Homo sapiens: one gene and its partner. The protein of the gene in region 1 purifies or fractionates together with the protein of each later gene. This does not show direct contact. Each region holds a gene or a part of one and is shown on either strand. Other genes may lie near its edges. The genes, in order: ZP3 and ZP2.

Region 1 (9,810 bases):
ACTTCCTCCCACAACCAGGATCCTCTCCCCTAAGGAGCTATCGGTCACTGATCCGAGGGCCAGGACTCTTTTCCCAAATCTGCCCTCCTTTATCCCCAGCCCCACTGAAGCAGGGCCCACCACTGAGAGCTTCAGGCCATCTCATCAATATTAGATGCTTTTCCCTTTTGCTACCCTACTGATCTGTGTGTTGATCTTTCTCTTCCCACAAGGCAGCTGCTGGAGGAGGTGAAGTGGCATCGATGTCATCTTTGAAAAGTTTCTACTTTGTCCCTTAATGCCACCCTGACGTATGAGCCTCTGCTTCAGAGGTTTGCAAGCCTGGCTGCGTATTAGAGTCACCTAGGAGCTTAAGTGGCTTTTGATGCATTTCCAAGTAGAATAAGGTAGGTCAGTAGATGGAGGATAACAGTAAAATGCTAGCAGGCCGGGTACAGTGGCTCACGCCTGTAATCCCAGCACTTTGGGAGGCCAAGGCAGGTGGATCGTTTGAGGTCGGGTATTCAAGACCAGCCTGGCCAATATGGTGAAACCATCTCTACTAAAAATATAACAGGCACTCAGTAGTGGCGTATGCCTACAATCTCAGCTACTTGGGAGGCTAAGGCAGGAGAATCGCTTGAGCCTGGGAGGTGGAAGTTGCAGTGACCTAAGATTGGGCCACTGTACTCCAGCCTGGGTGACAGAGACCCTCTCAAAAAAAAAAAAAAAAAAAAAAAAAAAAAAAAAAAAAAAAAAAAAGGGGGCGGGGGGCGCGTGGTGGTTCATGCCTATAATCCCAGCACTTTGGGAAGCTGAGGCGGTTGGATAATGAGGTCAAGAGTTCAAGACCAGCCTGGCCAAAATGATGAATCCCTGTCTCTACTAAGAAATACAAGGATTAGCCGGGCATGGTGGCAGGCGCCTACAATCCCAGCTACTCAGGAGGCTGAGGCAGAATTGCTTGCACCCGGAGGCAGAGGTTGCAGTGAGCCAAGACCGCACCATTGCATTCCAGCTTGGGTGACAGAGTGAGACTGTCTCAAAAAAAAAAAAAAAATGCTGGTGGTAGAACCTAGATGGTGTGCACACTGAAGTTCATGGAGTTTTACAGCAAACACCTATGAAGATTTAGTTAATGTTACAAAATGTGACACCATGCCCTACCCCAATAGAGTGAAGGTATGAGACTCTCTACAATCAGTATTTTTACAACCTCTCCAGATGATTAGTATAGAGCCAGCACTGGAAACCCCTACTTTAATCACTTCCTAACCACCTATTCTAAGCTCACCGCCTCACCTCTCATCTCAGTGAGCTTGTTTAAAAGCTACTTGAGGCTGGGCATGGTGGCTCACGCCTGTAATTCCAGCACTTTGGGAGACCGAGGCAGGCGGATCACCTGAGGTCAGGAGTTTGGGACCAGCCTGGACAACATGGTAAAACCTTGTCTCTACTAGAAATACAAAAAAATTAGCCAGGCATGGTGGCGGGTACCTGTACTCCCAGCTACTTGGGAGACTGAGGCAGGAGAATCACTTGCACCTGGGAACCTGGAGTGGCTGGGACTACAGGTGCCCACCATCATGCCCAGCTAATTTTTTGTATTTTTAGTAGAGGGGGTTTCACCGTGTTAACCAGGATGGTCTCAATCTCCTGACCTCGTGATCTGCCCGCCTCAGCCTCCCAAAGTGCTGGGATTATGGGCACGAGCCACCGCACCAGGCAATTTACTTCTAACCACTTACCAGTACTTCCCGGCTAGATGTTGGTCCTTGCACCTGCACTTCCTACTGCATCCCTCCCCCACCTCAGCCATTAGGCAGTTCCCATCTTCATTCCTTCCTTCTCCTTCCCTCTTAGTGTCAATTTGAGTTTTCTAGTTTAGGTTCTCAAGGGGAGGACCCAGACTGGCAGAACCAACACTTAAGAATGCAGATTCTAGGCTTCACTAGACCACCTGAATCAAACCCTGGGTTGGGGCCCAGTCATCAATTTCAACAAGCCCTCCAGCTGAGGATGATGCCTTCAGAATCACTAGCCTAACCTATGACCAAGTTCAAGAAGCCACCCTGGCTACGAAGTTCACACTGGTTTTCTTTGCCCCTGCAGAAAGCCTCCAGGAAGGCTAACACCTGCCTTTTTTTTTTTTTTTGGAGATGGAGTCTCACTGTCACTCAGGCTGGAGGTGCAGTGGCACAATCTCTGCTCACTGCAACCTCTGCCTCCCAGGTTCAAGCTATTCTCCTGCTTCAGCCTCCCAGGTAGCTGGGATTACAGGTACCCAACCACCACACTCAGCTAATTTTTTTTGTATATTTAGTAGAGTCGGGGTTTTACTATGTTGGCCAGGCTGGTCTTGAACTCCTGACCTCAAGTGATCCACCCCCCTCGGCCTCCCAAAGTATTGGGATTACAAGCATGAGCCACCGTGCCCGGCCTCTACCTCTTAAGGCTTCATATTGTTCATCCTTCTGCTTGAAGGCCTCGCTAAAGCTCATGGCTTTACTTGTAAGTTTGAGTTACTGGGACACAGCTCTAAGTCATTTGCTTAGGGGTGGAGCTAGTGAGTGACCCCATTCAGTAGGATATGAAGGTTGCAAGTTCAGCCTTCTTTCAGGCTGTTAAAGCTCTTACCATGTTTCTGGAGTCATTAGCAAAGTGGAAGACATCCACTGTGAACTGGAGTGTATCTGGCCCGGGTCGAGGAACTTTGAATGCAGAAGAGGCATCAGTGAGACCGTCGACAAGACAGCTTGGAAGAAAACAGAACGGTATTAAAGCCAGACAGGTGGGCCGGGCACCGTGGCTCACGCCCATAATCCCAGCACTTTGGGAGGCCAAGGTGGGTGGATCACTTGAGGTCAGGAGTTCGAGACTAGCCTGGCAAACATGGTGAAACCTTGTCTCTACTAAAAATACAAAAATTAGCCAGGCATGGTGATGGGCACCTGTAATCTCAGCTACTTGGGGGGCTGAGGCAGGAGAATCACTTAAACCTGGGAGGCAGAGGTTGCAGAGGGCAGAGATCAAGCCTCTGTATTCCAGCCTGGGTTACAGAGTGACACTGTCTCAAAAAGCCAAACAGGTGGCTTTAGGGTCATTTTGCTAGGAAGGTTCTCTAGGCAGGGAGCCCAGTGCTCACCCATGGAAGTCCACGATGGTGTGATAAGGGGAGGCATTCTGGTCTGGTGTCGGTGTGGCCACGCAGTGGTCCACAAACAACCGCAGTGGCACGTGGCTGCCAGTGTGGATTTCTGCCTGGAGGTGGGCTGCATCTCCCAGGTGGAAGGTGGGGGACCTCTTCTCAGCGTTCCAGTTCTCTGAAAGACACAGTCAGCTGGGCATGGTGGCTCATGCCTGTAATCCCAGCACCTTGGGAGGCTGAGGCAGGTGGATCACCTGAGGTCAGGAGTTCGAGACCAGCCTAGCCAACGTGGCAAAACCCCATCTCTACTAAAAATAGAAAAGTTAGCTGGGTGTGGTGTCAGAAGCCTGTAGTCCCAGTTACTCGGGAGGCTGAGGCAGGAGAATCGTTTGAACCCCAGGAGGTGGAGACTGCAGTGAGCTGAGATCGTGCCACTGCACTCCAGCCTGGAGGTCAGATCAAGACTGTCTCAAAAACCAACCAAAACCAACCAAAACCAACCAAAACCAACCAAAACCAAAACCAAACAAACAAAAAAAAGACACAGCCAAGGGCAGGGGTCTGAGATGGCCCAGGTCTTTCCACAGATGTCCCACCCAGCCTTCTTCTCTTACCCTCCATCAGACGCAGAGAGAAAGTCAGCTTCTCCTCTGAGAACACCGTGGTCCTGAAGGGCAACCAGGTGGGCAGGATGGCCTGGCTGCTCACATTGCCCTGCCTGAGAGAAGAACAGCAGCTGTGCACACCTGCCTCAGGTCACACCCACCTGGGCCCCCACTGATGGGGAGTATCTCACTGCTACCCCACTACAGGGTCCTCAGCTATGGCCCAGCCAGGTAGCTGGTGCGAGATGGCTGAACAGACACCTTGAGCCTGAGGCTGCCCCTGCACCCTCCTGAACTTCTGCACCTGTGAGTGGCCTAGCCATCCTAACTGATGCTATGATGCTATCTGGGCCGCTGAAGACAGATACAGCTGAACCTAGGAGTTTGGTTTCTAGACTGAGATCTGCTCCCTCTTGAGCCCTGGACCTGAGTGCGGTGGCTCATGCCTGTAATCCCAGCACTTTGGGAGGTGGAGACTGGAGGATTGCCTGAGGCTAGGAGTTTGAGAGCAGCCTGGACAACATAGCAAGACTCTATCTCTATAAAAAAGAAAAGAGGCCAGGCACGGTGGCTCAAGCCTATAATCCCAGCAGTTTGAGAGGCCGAGGCGGGCGGATCATGAGGTCAGGAGATCGAGACCATCCTGGCTAACATGGTGAAACCCCATCTCCACTAAAAATAAAATTATCCGGGCATGGTGGCGGGCGCCTTTAGTCCCAGCTACTTGGGAGGCTGAGGCAGGAGAATGGCGTGAACCTCGGAGGTGGAGTTTGCAGTGAGCTGAGATCACACCACTGCACTCCAGCCTGGGCAACAGAGCAAGACTCCATCTCAAAAAAAAAAGAAAAGAAAAGAAAAGATAGCTGGGCATAGTAGTACATACCAGCTACTCAGGAGGCTGAGATGGGAGGATTGCTTGAGCCCAGGAGGTCAAGGCTGCAGTGAACTATGATGGCACCCCACTGCACTCCAGCCTGGGCGGCAGAGTAAGACTTTTTTTTTTTAAACAAAAAACCAAAAGCCACCACACATACTTTAGCCCTAGAGGTTCAGGTTTGGGGTCTGATAGCAGGCCCTGCACAGTACTCCACAGGATGCTTGAGAGGGGAATCAGCTAAGGCCATCTTTTTTTTTTTTTTTTGAGACGGAGTCTCACTTTGTCTCCCAGGCTGGAGTACAGTGGCACGATCTCGGCTCACTGCAAGCTCCACCACCCAGGTTCACGCCATTCTCCTGCCTCAGCCTCCCAAATAGCTGGGACTACAGGCACCCGCCACTAGGCCTGGCTAATTTTTTGTATTTTTAGTAGAGACGGGGTTTCACCACGTTAGCCAGGATGGTCTCCATCTCCTGACCTCATGATCCGCCCGCCTCGGCCTCCCAAAGTGCTGGGATTATAGGCGTGAGCCACCATGCCCAGCCAAGGCCATCCTTTAGAGATCAAAGACAGGCCCTTAGGTCTTGAGATGCTACCGAGAGCCTGGACCCACACCAGTGACTGGGAAGTCCATGGAAGCAGGTCTGGGTATCTGCAGATACCTACCCTGCTAACCCCATAGGATCTGCTGGAAGAAGCTACTCCAAGTGATGGATGCATCTATTGATAACCAGACTCAGGTATCTGGAGCCAGGTTAAAGCATCCCAGCCTACAACCAGCCTCTCTAATACTACCTACAGCCAATGGACCAGGTGAGCCACCATCCTCAGGGGTCAGGCCCAGAGACTGAAGTCAGACTTCCACGGTCACAGGACAGCTTCAGTCCCTCATGCCGACTGGGCAGCCTGCCCTTGACTCCTCTATCCTCCTCCATCTCCCCTACCCACATAGGCACCAAGCTCCTCCAACTGCTCTTAGCTCCTGCGAGTCAGCCTCTACGGTCCCTGCAACCATGGGTCAGGCCTCATTGAATCCCAGTTTTCCAGCCTCCCAGCTGGTTCTCACTAGTTCCCATTTGTCTTCAGCACCAGCCACCAGGTGACCCTGGGTGGAGATTCAGTCCTCACCCATTCCAGGAGGGGCACCTGTGGTGAGGCTGGTGAGCCCATCTGTCTGGCTCCCTCATTACCCCAGTCCCTGGGCTCCAGCCCCCAGGCTGCATGTCACCTACTAAGGGCACACTACCCTCCCGTTGGGTGTGTGGCCACATGGCTCTGCCCAGGCCATCTCAGCCTCAAGGTCCCCCACTCCAGGATCCTGTTCTAGGATAACCCCTACCATGACCCCTCCCAGGGGCATGGCTCATCCCTCATGATGTCCTGACTGGTATCAGCTCCCTACCCACTTCACACTAGCATTTTCTTTTTGAGATGGAGTCTTGCTCTGTTGCCCAGGCTGGAGTGCAATGGTGCCATCTCAGCTCACTGCAACCTCTGCATCCTGGGTTCAAATGATTCTCCTGCCTCAGCCTCCTGAGTAGCTGAGATTACAGGCACGCGCTACCACACTCGGCTAATTTTTTTGTGTTTTTAGTAGAGATGGGTTTCACCATGTTGGCCAGGCTGGTCCTGAACTCCTTACCTCGTGAGCTGCCCACCTTGGCCTCCCAAAGGGCTGGTATTACAGGCGTGAGCCACCATACCTGGCCGCATCATCTTATACCCACTCCCAGACTGGTTCAAGGGCAGGGACAAAGTCCCCTGCACCCCATGCTGAGGCCAGCACAGGACCCAGTGTTGTCCTTGGGAGCCATAGTTTCTCCTCCCACTTCAGGGCCTGAGTTCACAGGCACGTGCTTGATGCCAGGGGCTTGAGGACCACAGAAGAGTAGGCCACCACCGCCCAGGTCAGATTCTAGAACGCAGCCTAGCACTATTTTATTATTATTTTTTGCGATGGAGTATCGCTTTGTTGCCCAGAATGGAGTACAGCAGTGCAATCTCGGCTCACTGCAGCCTCTGCCTCCTGGGTTCAAGCAATTCTCCTGCCTCAGCCTCCCAAGTAGCTGGGATTATAGACACCCGGCTAATTTCTGTGTTTTTAGTAGAGATGGGGTTTCACCATGTAGGCCAGACTGGTCTTGAACTCCTTGACCTCAAGCGATCCACCTGTCAGCCTCCCAAAGTGCTAGGATTACAGGATGAGCCACTGCACCTGGCCCCAGCCTAGCACTATTGGAAGGCCATTTCTGAACCCTAAGGGCCGAGGCTGGCATAGTACCACCACCAGGGCTGAGCAGCTCTGAAGCTTCCGCTAAGCTGCAGTTGGGCTCCTGATACTCTTCTGGGGCTCGAACTAGACTCAGCAGGCCCCACAATCCCACGCAGTACAGTAACCACAGCTGCAAATGCTTCGGTAGGTAGTTCTAATAGCCATGCTGCAAGCTGTAGCCCATAGCCAGCCCACTTGCCTGCAGCCACACCCAAGGGGCTTTTGCACCAGGGGCCATGAGTCAGTCCCACACCGACCTGGGGTAGCGGCACTCGATGGGAATCTCTGCGCGGTTAGTCCTCACGATGGACAGGTTTCCCACGGGGCGGGGGTCATGGAGCAGGAAGGTGCTGTACACCAGGGCATCGTCAGTTACCTGGAGGAAAGGTGAGAAGTTAATGCTGCCGGCCATCACCTGCCCGGGTACTCCCAAGCCATACCTGAGTGCTCAGGGAGGGCAGCCCACAAGGGGACAGAAAGACCACAGGGTCAAGGCCAGGTGCAGTGACTCATGCCTGTAACCCCAGCACTTTGGGAGGCCAAGGATTGCTTGAGGCCAGGAGTTTGAGACTGGCCTGGGAAACATAGCAAGACCCCATCTCTACAAAAGAGAACACAGGCTCTGCCACTGGTCAGGAAAGAGGCAGGACAGGTACTGTCTTTGTACCTCGGAATCTTTACCTGACACCACATATTGACACCACCACAGGCAGACTGGATCAACCACATGGCAGATACCATGTAACACCCAAGCAATAGAGGCATCAGGGCACATGACACATCCCTTCTGACACTCCCCCTCCATGCCCCCCAGTACATACAGTTTCCTCTTTCAGGAGAGGCCCAGGGCCAAGATAGCCGCCAGGAAGCAGTCAGGAAGTGCCCAGCTGTTAACACTTATCAGCTTCTGGCTGGGCGCTGTGGCTCACGCCCGTAATCCCAGCACTTTGGGAGGCTGAGGAGGGCAGATCATCTGAGGTCAGGAGTTTGAGACCAGCCTGACCAACATGGTGAAACCCCATCTCTACTTAAAAAAAAAAAATTAGCTGAGTGTGGTGGCACGTGCCTGTAATCCCAGCTACTCGGGAGACTGAGGCAGAAGAATCGCTTGAACCCGGGAGGCAGAGGTTGCAGTGAGCGGAGATCGTGCCATTGCATTCTAGCCTGGGCAACAAGAGCAAAACTCTCAAAAACAAAAACAAACAAAAAACACAACAACCCACATCAGCTTCTAACCTATTCAAGCCCATTTCACATAAGGTGGGGGAGACTGATTCAGAGGTTGCCTGAGGCAGGAAGAGCACAGGTGAGTACTACTGGGGAAATTTGCATCGTCCAATAGGGCTGCAGAAGGCAGGGCCTGCCTGGGAGAGAGTTTTATAGCAAACACCTAAGTTCGAAGATTTTGCTAGAATATTAGAAAAATGTGACGCTAGGCCCTACCCCAGTAGAGTGAAGGTATGAGATTCTCTTGAGAATCAGTATTTTTACAACCTTTCCAGGTGATTAGCATAGAGCCAGCACTGGAAACCCCTACTTTAGTCACTTCCTAACCACCTTTTGTTTTTTTGAGATGCAGTCTTGCTCTGTCACCCAGGCTGGAGTGCAGTGGCACGAACTCGGCTCACTGCAACCTCCGCCTCCCAGGTTCAAGCAATTCTCTGCTTCAGCCTCTGAGTAGCTGGAATTACAGGCACGTGCCACCGTGCCTTTTTTTTTTTTTTTTAAATAGAGACAGGGTTTCGCCATGTTAGCCAGGCTGGTCTCGAACTCCTGGCCTCAGGTGATCCACCTGCCTCAGCCTCCCAAAGTGCTGGATTACAGGTGTGAGCCACCATGACTCAACCCCCAACCACCTATTCTAAGCTCACTATCCCCACCTCTCATCTCAGGGAGCTTATTTAAAAACTACTTGAGGGCTGGGTGCAGTGGCTCATGCCTGTAATCCCAGCACTTTGGGAGGGAAGAGGATTGCTTGAGGCCAGGAAGTCACGACCAGCCTGGGCAATAGAGCTAGACCCCATCTCTACAAAAACATAACTTGGCTGGGCACGGTGGCATGTGCCTGTAGTCCATCCCAGCTATTCAGGAGGCTGAGGCAGGAGGATGGCTTGAGCCTAGGAGGTCGAAGTTGCCCAAGAGCTCAGGTGGCTGCCTGGCCCTGACCAAACTCGATCTTCAGGGAATAGTCCTAGACCTTATTAGCAAGTGCCCCAGCACAGACAGAACCAGCATAGCTCGTGGGGCCCCTTATTCAAAAGTTATTACCATTTCAGGGCAAGAGGGCATTCCATTAAGCACTGGGCCCCACAGAACTGCACAGGTTGTATACCTGGGAAACTGGCCATGGCTGTATTTTTTTTTTTTTTTTTTTTGAGACGGAGTCTCACTCTGTTGCCCAGGCTGGAGTGCAGTGGCACGATCTCAACTCACTGCAACCTACGCCTCCCGGGTTCAAGCAATTCTCTGCCTCAGACTCCTGAGTAGCTGGGATTACAGGTGCCCGCCACCACACCCGGCTAACTTCTTTGTATTTTTAGTAGAGATGAGGTTTCACCATCGTGGCCAGGCTGGTCTTGAACTCCTGACCTCGTGATTCACCCGCCTCGGCCTCCCAAAGTGCTGGGATTACAGGCGTGAGCCACTGCGCACGGCCAGCCGCAGGTGATTCTCACCGGGCAAAACTGGGAAACACCACACCAGAGGAAGGAGTTTGCAGGCTTTGCTCCTCATTGGAGTCACCTGAGATCCTTATTACCCACAGCTGGTCCCACATCCTTTCTATTTTAGCAGCCTGGACATCAGGATTTTTAGAAGCTCCACAGGTGGGGTTAATAAAAGAGGGTCTTGCTCTGCCTTCCAGGCTGGAATGCAGTGGCACAATCGTAGCTCACTGCAGCCTCCAAATCATGGGTTTAAGCAATCCTCC
Region 2 (9,810 bases), on another chromosome or scaffold:
CGATTTCTCTCTTCTTCGCCCTTGTGACTTCAGGGAACTCCATAGATGTTTCTCAGTTGGTAAATCCTGCCTTTCCAGGTATGTCTCTTGGGTGACAGAAGTCTTCTTAGCAGAGAAAACAGGTTGCAGCTGGAAGGCCTAGCTGGCCAAGAAACACAGGCCTGGCTCAGACAACCTCCATTCACCCCCTTTATTACCTTGGTCAGGTTACTGGATCTTTCTTCTGCTAACCTGTAGACTCACTATACCTGCTAAATGAAAACTCAAACACTTGCACTGCCTTCCAATCCCTCACTGCCTCAAGCTTTATGGTATCCACAGAACAGCAAACCACCACACTAAGCCCTCATCTTTAGGAGCAGCAATCTTCAAACACAAACTCATGCTTAAGGAAAACATCGACATAACAAGCAAAACTGGAGCTGCTCACTTGACGTTCACCTGAGCCAGAGGCTGCAGAGTAGCAGATGATGGGCAAAACTTGATCTTTAAAAAAAAAAAAAAAAATGCAGCCAGGCGCCGGGGCTCACGCCTGTAATCCCAGAACTTTGGGAAGCCAAGGCGGGCAGATCACCTGAGCTCAGGAGTTTGAGACCAGCCTGGCCAATGTGGTGAAACCCCATCTCTACCAAAAATACAAAAACTAGCTGGGTGTGGTGGTGGGCACATGTAATCCCAGCTACTTGGGAGGCTGAGGCAGGAGAATCGCTTGAACCTGGGAGGCGGAGGTTGAGGTGGGTTGAGATCGTGCCACTGCACTCCAGCCTGGGTGACAGAGAGACTCCGTCTCAAAATAAATAAATAAATAAATAAAAGTCCTGGGACTTACCCAGGACTTTGTTTAACATCAATTTGCAAAACCTGTTGACAAAGCTTTTGTCAGTTTTTCGGGCCTGCCTCCATCTGCTCCACTGTCAAGGTGTTGACCTGGCTCCTACAGACCTGCTTGTCAACCCTAACCTGGGCTTCTTACTGGAACACTTCAAAAGCCCTGGGTACCTGATATTTTCCTTACAGTTCTTGGCATATTGTATTGTTGTCTTGGTCACTTGTTTGTGAGCTCTCCCAGGGTAGGGGACGATTCTTGCCTCCCTCATCTGGAATCCCTCCCATCTGAGAGGAGTCTATACACTTTTGTAGGAGTTGCATCACTCATGACTCAAAGCCCCCAAATGCTTCCTTTGCTCCTTAGGCACTGTCACTTGCGATGAAAGGGAAATAACAGTGGAGTTCCCAAGCAGTCCTGGCACCAAGAAATGGCATGCATCTGTGGTGGGTAGGTAACGTGTGTTATCTCCTCATAGTCCTGATTAGCAGACAGCCTTTGGCTTAGGTCAATCCTGTTTGGGGAGCAGAGTACCCAAACTCCTGCAGCAACGGCATCCAACTCCCATGATGCCATGGGGATACCTGATTTGCATGAAGCCACCCAGCATGGAAGACCTGTCTGTCTTCGAAAGTGTGTCTTATGCCAGCATCTCTGGGAAGCCTCTGGCTGCAAGTCATACCATCTCAAAGCTCAAGTTCTATCACTGAGTTGGGGCGGAAGTGAAGGGACTGAAGTACCTTAGAAATGGACTGGTGGTCTTGACTCTATAGCTTTGGACTGTCACTGAAATGTACTCAGCCATCCTGTCTAACCTGCTCTGGCCTTGGCAGATCCTCTTGGTCTCGACATGCCGAACTGCACTTACATCCTGGACCCAGAAAAGCTCACCCTGAGGGCTACCTATGATAACTGTACCAGGAGAGTGGTAAGTCATTGCTTTGAGCAGTTCTTGGGGAAGTACGTAGTAACCTAAGAGTTACTGGCAGTAAACTTGGCTAAGAACTTTCTCTTTGGAGTAAAGCAGTGGCTCTCAACCAAGGGGGTGGTGTCTCGTGTGTGGCTCTTCTTTTCTATTATAATCTGTCTAGGCCAGGTGTGATGGCTCACGCCTATAATCTCTGCACTTTAGGAGGCTGAGACGGGTGGATCACCTGAGGTCAGAAGTTTGAGACCAGCCTGGCCAACATGGTGAAACCCCATCCCTACTAAAAATACAAAAAACTAGCTGGGTGTGGTAGCACACACCTGTAATCCCAGCTACTTGTGAGGCTGAGGCAGGAGAATCGCTTAAACCCAGGGGACAGAGGTTTGCAGTGAGCTGAGATTGCTCCATTGCCCTCCAGCCTGGGCAACAAGAGCAAAACTGTCTGGAGGAGGGTGGGGGGAATCTGTCCAGGGGACATTTGACAACATCTAGAAACATCTTTGGTTATCACAACTGAAGGTAGAAGAGCTACTACTGGCATCTAATGGATACAAGCCAAAGATGCTGGCAGACAACCAACATTACCCAAGTCTCCTCCCCATAACACAGAATTACCAGGACTGAGATGTCAGTGTTGAGGATGAGAAACCCTGGCATTCAAGTACTTGAGCCCTTGAGCCCTGGCTCTACCACTAATCAGGTGTAATTTCCACCAAGTGAGCCCTTTCAAGCCTGTTTGCCCATTAGAAGATGAGAGTAATGGTGCCTGCTCCATGGGGGTAATGAAGACTAATGATGTTCTACAGATTAAGACCTGGTGCAGAACCTGGATACAACAAGTGATGAAACACGAGCTATTTTGATCTGTGAACCCCAACATGAGATGGAAGGCTATTTTGGTGCTAGCAAATAGAAATCTGACCTATAGAAACAGGTGTTAAAAGGCAAACAGCAGCTAAGCAGTAAGGGTTTTTCTATTGCCAAGCAACAGTATTGCCCAATCAGGAATATTAGGAGCAATAAAAGCAACCTGTCTAAGCAGAAGCTAGCAAGTTGTAATTTGGAAAGTTTGGGTTTGACTAGTTGGACATAGGCCTGGGGTGAGTTCTGGGAATCTGCATATCTAACAGTCTATACCATCTGATTACGATGCAGGTGGTCAGCAGTCTAAGCTTTGTACAGATACAGTCTTAGACCCTACTCTGTAAACAGGCTTGAACTGTAAGTCATCTGGTCCCCTAAAGCCCTCTGTGATCAATCAATGAAGTAATCATAGGTCCTTCATGAAAAACCTGATAATTTCCTTCTAAAACAGACCTTCTCAACATTAGAGGTCTTGGAGTCGCATTCCCTTAGACTAAGGGTCTGCAAGCCATAACCTGTGGATGGCCAAACGCAGTCCATGGTCTCTTTCTGAGGCAGGCTTGCTCTGTAGCCCAGGCTGGAAAGTAGTGGCTGCAATCATGGCTCACTGCAGCCTAGAACTGCTGGGCTCAAGGGATTCTCCCGTCTCAGCCTCCCAACTAGTTGGGGCTACAGGCATGCAACACTATGCCTGTCTAATCTTTGTCTTGTCAAAATGGGGATTTCACCATGTTGTCCAGGCTGGCCTCAAACTTCTGGCCTCAAGGGATCCTCCCACCTCAGCCTTCCAAAGCACTGGGATTATAGGCATGAACCACTGTGCCTAGTTCATGGGTTTTTTTTGTGTTTTTGTTTGTTTTTGTTTTGGTTTGGTTTTCAAACTAAGAATGGGTTTTATCTTCTTAATCTTCTTGAGACAGGGTCTTGCTGTTGTCCAGGCTGGCATGCAGTGGCATAATCTCGGCTCACTGCAACCTCTACCTCCCGGACTCAAGCAATCCCCTACCCTATGTCTCAGTACCACCTCAGCCTGCCCAGTAGCTGAGACCACAGGCATATACCACCACACCCAGCTAACTTTTGTGGTGTGTGTGTGTGTGTGTGTGTGTGTGTGTGTGTGTGTGTGTGTGTTTAATATATATATAGAGATGGAGTCTCTCACCATGTTGCACAGGCTGGTCTTGAACTCCTGAGCTCAAGCAGTCAGTCTGCCTCAGCCTCCCAAAGTGCTGGAGTTACAGGCAATGAGCCACCATGCCCAGCTGGCTTTTATCTTTTTAAAGTTCTTTTAAGGAAATATGCTATGGATTTCATGTGGCTCACATGAGTCTAAAACAGTTGCTAATGCATAATGGAAAAAGGTTGGCTGACCCCTGCTTTTAGACTGAGTTTCCTAAGGTCAGGGGTAATAGCAAGGGTAGCTCTACCCAGCACAATGGCAGCTACTTAGGTGCTTAACAAGTATTCAGATAACCTGGGTAGAAGCCCCATACCAACCCCATTCAGCCAGGACCATGGTACTGAGACATAGGGTACACATAAGAGAAATAGAAACTGAACTCCATTTCCTGATGCTAAAACTGGCCTATCAGCATGAGTCTTCACTAACAGATTACAATGGGCTAGCTAGTCTCCTGGTACGGGAATGAGGTACCTTCCAGCACTTGTGGTATTAGTAACTTTAAGGGTTTTCCCACTCAGATGGGTCAGATGGTATTCTAGAATCCCATGGGGGTACAGTACTTACTCTGTTCCCACTGTGCTATCTGTACACAGCATGGTGGACACCAGATGACCATCAGAGTCATGAACAACAGTGCTGCCTTAAGACACGGAGCTGTCATGTATCAGTTCTTCTGTCCAGCTATGCAAGTAGAAGAGACCCAGGGGCTTTCAGCATCTACAATCTGCCAGAAGGATTTCATGTCTGTGAGTGAAACGGGCTGACTGCTCGGGGTATATGGCTACTGCAGGGGGAATATGATGATGATCTAACCAGGGCGGGGCTTAGAAATCAGACCATGATTTAATCCTGTACTTGCTAATTTTCTGTGTGATGAGGTTTAACTTTACCCTGAGGCTTTGTTTCCAAGTCCAAAGTGATGGGACAATAATGCTTACCTCAGGGTGGCTCTAAGAATTTACTGAGGGTATATACATGGTACTTGGCACATCATGCATGGCAATAGGGTTTTATTGGTAGTTGCACTCACACTAATCATCTGACAAATGGAATACATGCCATGTTCCAGGCCCTACCCTAGATGCTAAGATACAATAAGTGAACAAAACGACCCAGTCACATCTTCATGGGTTTAGAGTCTAACATGGCTAATGTCAACAATGGACAACTAAAAATAACACTGACATAAAAGCAACTCAATAACAATGATAGAACTGCATGGCTTTTACATAGTACCTGATTTCTATGGACATTGGTGAAAGGGCAAACGTTTAAGAACATTGTCCTGGTCAGGCATGGTGGCTCATGCCTGTAATCCCAGCAATTTGGGAGGCTGAGGTAGGTGGATCACCTGAGGTCAGGAGTTTGAGACCAGCCTGACCAACATGGTGAAAACCCATCTCTACTAAATACAAAAAACTAGCCGGGTATGGTAGTACATTCCTGTAATCCCAGCTACTTGGGAGGCTGGGGCAGGAGAATCGCTTGAACCCAGGAGACGGAGGTTGCAGGGAGCCGAGATTGCACCATTGCACTCCAGCCTGGGCGATGAGCGAAACTCTATCTTGGGGGGAGAAATGTGTCCCAACTTACAACTGGAAAGGAGCTTAGATCTTCCAGCTGCCTCTTGGGATCAGAAGTTCAAAGAAGTATAATGACATCTAAGGGCACAGTCAGGGTTCATGTGCTTCTTCCACTGCATCCCACAGCAGGCCTTTTGGTATGACAACCACACAGCAATTTCTGGCATGAATTCGGAAACATCTACCTCCAAATCAAAGTCTTACATCACAATTCTTTTCTTCCAGTTTTCCTTGCCACGGGTCTTCTCTGGCTTGGCTGACGACAGTAAGGTATGAAGCAAATTTTAAAAATCAGACCTTAATAACCTTTAATTCTATGTTAAAGGTGATATTACCTTTAACCTGATAAATTGTTAGACTACCAGAGACTTGGTTAAGGGAGCACCAGCCCTCTAAACAAAGCTTTTTGACTTCAGGGGACCAAAGTTCAGATGGGATGGAGCATTGAGGTTGGTGATGGTGCAAGAGCCAAAACTCTGACCCTGCCAGAGGCCATGAAGGAAGGCTTCAGCCTCTTGATTGACAACCACAGGATGACCTTCCATGTGCCATTCAATGCCACTGGAGTGACTCACTATGTGGTAGGTGTGGAAGTCTGGCTTTGTACCACCAAAGCACAGGCCAGTATTCCTAAATTGAAGCATGATCTCAACCATGTCTTCACATTAATTTATAATACAACCCATTTTAATGCCTATTAAGTGCCAAACACTTCGCTGGGTATTCACACCTGTAATCCCAGCACTTTGGAAGGCTGAAGCGGGCAGATCGCTTGAGGTCAGGAGTTCAAGACCAGCCCGGCCAACCCTGTCTGTTTAGTGAAACCCTGTCTCTACTAAAAACACAAAAACTTAACTGGGTGAGATGGTACATGCCTATAATCCCAACTACTCAGGAGGCTGAGGTGGGAGAATCGCTTGAACCCAGGAGGTAGAAGTTGCAGTGAGCCGAGATTGTACCACTGCACTCCAGCCTGGGCGACAGAGCGAGACCATTTCTCAAAAATACATAATCCTTACCTCAATCTAGTCTCTTTCCCATAGTCTTAAATCTATAGTACAACACAGAACAAGCATATTCCTGAAAGCTTTATGGGTTAAGGGGTTCTGTTTGGGTTGTCATTGTCCTATATTGTTTTATAGCAAGTATTGGTGCTTTCCAGGCCAATAGTCTGAACACTGCACTAAATGAATTAATCTCCTAAAGTACTTAGGACAGGTCCTGAGATGTAAGTGCTCAAATGCCAACCACTTCAAGAACAGTCCTATCTCCCAGTAAGAACACAAATGGATTGAGGCTTGAAAACATTGTCTGGCTGCTGATACTTTAAAATAGTCATATGGGGTAAGGACAGATCTTATCTGCCTAGAAGTCATTGGCTACAGGTGATCTAGACAACATTCTTCCAGATGTTAGAACAAGGTTAAAACTAATATACCTCCAGATTAGACAAATTAGTCATTAGACAAATGCTTAAATCCTACTTGTGTCAAAGTAGTGCCCATTACTTGGATATATACTTGCCAAGATGATTCTTACTGGTTAGAGATTCAAGTAACCAATGTTTTTGAAGATCACTGTTATTTCTCCCCCTAGCAAGGTAACAGTCATCTCTACATGGTGTCTCTGAAGCTTACATTTATATCTCCTGGACAGAAGGTGATCTTCTCTTCACAAGCTATTTGTGCACCAGGTAAGGTCCCAGATAGCTGCAACCTCAGTGTGGGAGACATTGTCCTAGAAGCTTAATCAAGGCTGGTAATGGGCATTCTGTTGTCATTCCTTCTAGATCCTGTGACCTGCAATGCCACACACATGACTCTCACCATACCAGAGTTTCCTGGGAAGCTTAAGTCTGTGAGCTTTGAAAACCAGAACATTGATGTGAGCCAGCTGCATGACAATGGAATTGATCTAGAAGCAACAAATGGCATGAAATTGCATTTCAGCAAAACTCTGCTCAAAACGAAAGTATGTTCAATTGTCAACCACTGAACTCCACCGGGTCCTGACTTGAAGTATACTCTTGTGGGTAGTCCTCATACGGCTGATAACTTGCCCGTGAGCTCTAATTGCCAACATAACAGATTCAAACTCCAAAAGGCCTCATTTGATCATCTTGTATAAGTGAAATATCAAGTAACTAAAGTTCATTCTCTAACACAAAACCTCTTTAACTTCTGTCATGAAAAATCGTCTAAGTCTTTCTAAGTCTTAAAACTGTCTAAGGCCCCAACTGAGTAGTAGCAACTACTTGTCAAATACCTAATGATGAATCTGTCCTGGTCAACGAACAGGACACCTTGATCTAAACAAAAGGGTCCCGTACTGTTGCTGTTGAGGTTAGTCTTCACTAGAACTGCCAGGGATACCAGAGAATAATCTTAGGTTGGGGGTACATATTATGCAATACCATTTTATAACATCTGTAGAGTCCTTTTGACTCAGACCTGGCTTGGCAGAGGATTCCACTATTCTTTGGAATTTGATCTGCTAATTCAAGCTTTAGTGCCTCGTACAAAGAGTACAGTGCTGGGTACTCCAGGGCATGAGTTTAAAGCAATAAATCTGCCTGGGGATACATCCAGATCTGAGGAAGTGATAGGGTCTCTCTTGTTTTGGTTTAAAGGGAGCCCAGATAAGTCTGGAGTGTGTCCTGCAAGTATTTAGTGGACTTGCTTCCTGCCTCCCTGTGACGGTTCCGGGCCCCAACGGACTGTGGCTGCTAATTGACATTTTCTCATTTCAGTTATCTGAAAAATGCCTACTCCATCAGTTCTACTTAGCTTCACTCAAGCTGACCTTTCTCCTTCGGCCAGAGACAGTATCCATGGTGATCTATCCTGAGTGTCTCTGTGAGTCACCCGTTTCTATAGGTAAAGACCTTTTATTAAAATCATGTTCTACCTTTTTTCTCCCTTGGCTCTTGTACATGTGGGCAAATGTATAGAAGGTCAGATTCTGATCTATTGCTTATAGACTGAAGAAACTAAAGACTAGTCAGATTAGAAACAGTGTAGCTGCTACGATGGGGTCCTAAGTATGATATTTTTAAGATCCCTACATAGGTAGGTTTTATGGCAACTGCTCCATGGTTAAACAATCTAGATATTTTGGCTTAGGAGCCTGAACCTGACATCTAGGTAAGAATATTCAAACTTCTAATTAGAATTAAGTTTAAGTACCCCCCCACCCCAAAATTCCTACAAATTCTTAAATAGAGTGAATATCTCTTGTTTAGCATTGCCTCCACCATGTGCTTCTGTTTAATGTGATCTGCACAGGTCAGATCAAATAGGAAAACCAGCTCCTGCCTCAGTTTCTCCCCAAACTACTCAGGATTTGTGAGTATACAAAGAAAGGATACAATAACATAGGCGCTGTACTTAAAGCCACATTAAGTTTAACCTTGAGTCAACTCCTGCCCTTCATCAGGATTCTCACTGGTCTTATACCATATAGCACTTCTTCCTACATCTACTGGTCCCTCCTTTGGATGAAAAGTCCTACTCTCACATAGAACAATCAACTAACTTCAGCTCCCTTTGTAATTCAAGCTGCTGATCAAGGTTCCCTCATAAAGACTTCAAGACAGATTCTGATGCCTCCTGCTAAATTAGAATTTCTCCCTCGTAGCATATCAGGTTGGGAGATGACAGTATCACAGGGCAGACAAACTTATTTTCTCTAAACTTTCACCGCTGTCTAGTTACAGGGGAGCTGTGCACCCAGGATGGGTTTATGGACGTCGAGGTCTACAGCTACCAAACACAACCAGCTCTTGACCTGGGTACTCTGAGGGTGGGAAACTCATCCTGCCAGCCTGTCTTTGAGGCTCAGTCTCAGGGGCTGGTACGGTTCCACATACCCCTGAATGGATGTGGAACGAGATATAAGGTTAGTACTGGCAGATGGCACGAGGTTAAGTCTCATCTTTGACATAACTGGCTGCTAACCCACTTTCTCTGACATTTAAGTTCGAAGATGATAAAGTCGTCTATGAAAACGAAATACATGCTCTCTGGACGGATTTTCCTCCAAGCAAAATATCTAGAGACAGTGAGTTCAGGTGAGATAAAATTGCTATTTGACTCTTAAGCTCTAGTTTAAACTCAAGCAATTTTTTAACCTGAAATTTTCTGTACCTACCTTCCCTCCAAACTCTTACAGAATGACAGTGAAGTGTTCTTATAGCAGGAATGACATGCTACTAAACATCAACGTTGAAAGCCTTACTCCTCCAGTGGCCTCAGTGAAGTTGGGTCCATTTACCTTGATCCTGCAAAGCTACCCAGGTAAGAGATTGCAGTCTGTGAAATTGCTTAAATGATCTCAAACTTCTCCCTAAAATGAACATCCTGATACTGCCAGACTAATGGAGCAGTGATGACCTATGAATCTGTGTTGCAGCCATTAACTACTTGAA

Evidence for each region.
Region 2: the proteins of ZP3 (region 1) and ZP2 purify together in Homo sapiens (co-immunoprecipitation; 2 studies listed by IntAct). This does not show direct contact.

Annotation. Positions count from the first base shown.
Region 1 is NC_000007.14:76,426,962-76,436,771, reverse strand, and holds part of ZP3 (zona pellucida sperm-binding protein 3 isoform 1 precursor), read right to left. Parts: intron 7,258-9,810; coding exon 7,139-7,257; intron 3,846-7,138; coding exon 3,742-3,845; intron 3,303-3,741; coding exon 3,125-3,302; intron 2,735-3,124; coding exon 2,617-2,734; intron 1-2,616. UniProt on the Homo sapiens protein: Component of the zona pellucida, an extracellular matrix surrounding oocytes which mediates sperm binding, induction of the acrosome reaction and prevents post-fertilization polyspermy.
Region 2 is NC_000016.10:21,201,575-21,211,384, reverse strand, and holds part of ZP2 (zona pellucida sperm-binding protein 2 isoform 1 preproprotein), read left to right. Parts: coding exon 1-78; intron 79-1,192; coding exon 1,193-1,276; intron 1,277-1,659; coding exon 1,660-1,754; intron 1,755-4,394; coding exon 4,395-4,547; intron 4,548-5,609; coding exon 5,610-5,654; intron 5,655-5,800; coding exon 5,801-5,965; intron 5,966-6,980; coding exon 6,981-7,077; intron 7,078-7,173; coding exon 7,174-7,355; intron 7,356-8,133; coding exon 8,134-8,260; intron 8,261-9,093; coding exon 9,094-9,281; intron 9,282-9,361; coding exon 9,362-9,453; intron 9,454-9,554; coding exon 9,555-9,679; intron 9,680-9,810. UniProt on the Homo sapiens protein: Component of the zona pellucida, an extracellular matrix surrounding oocytes which mediates sperm binding, induction of the acrosome reaction and prevents post-fertilization polyspermy.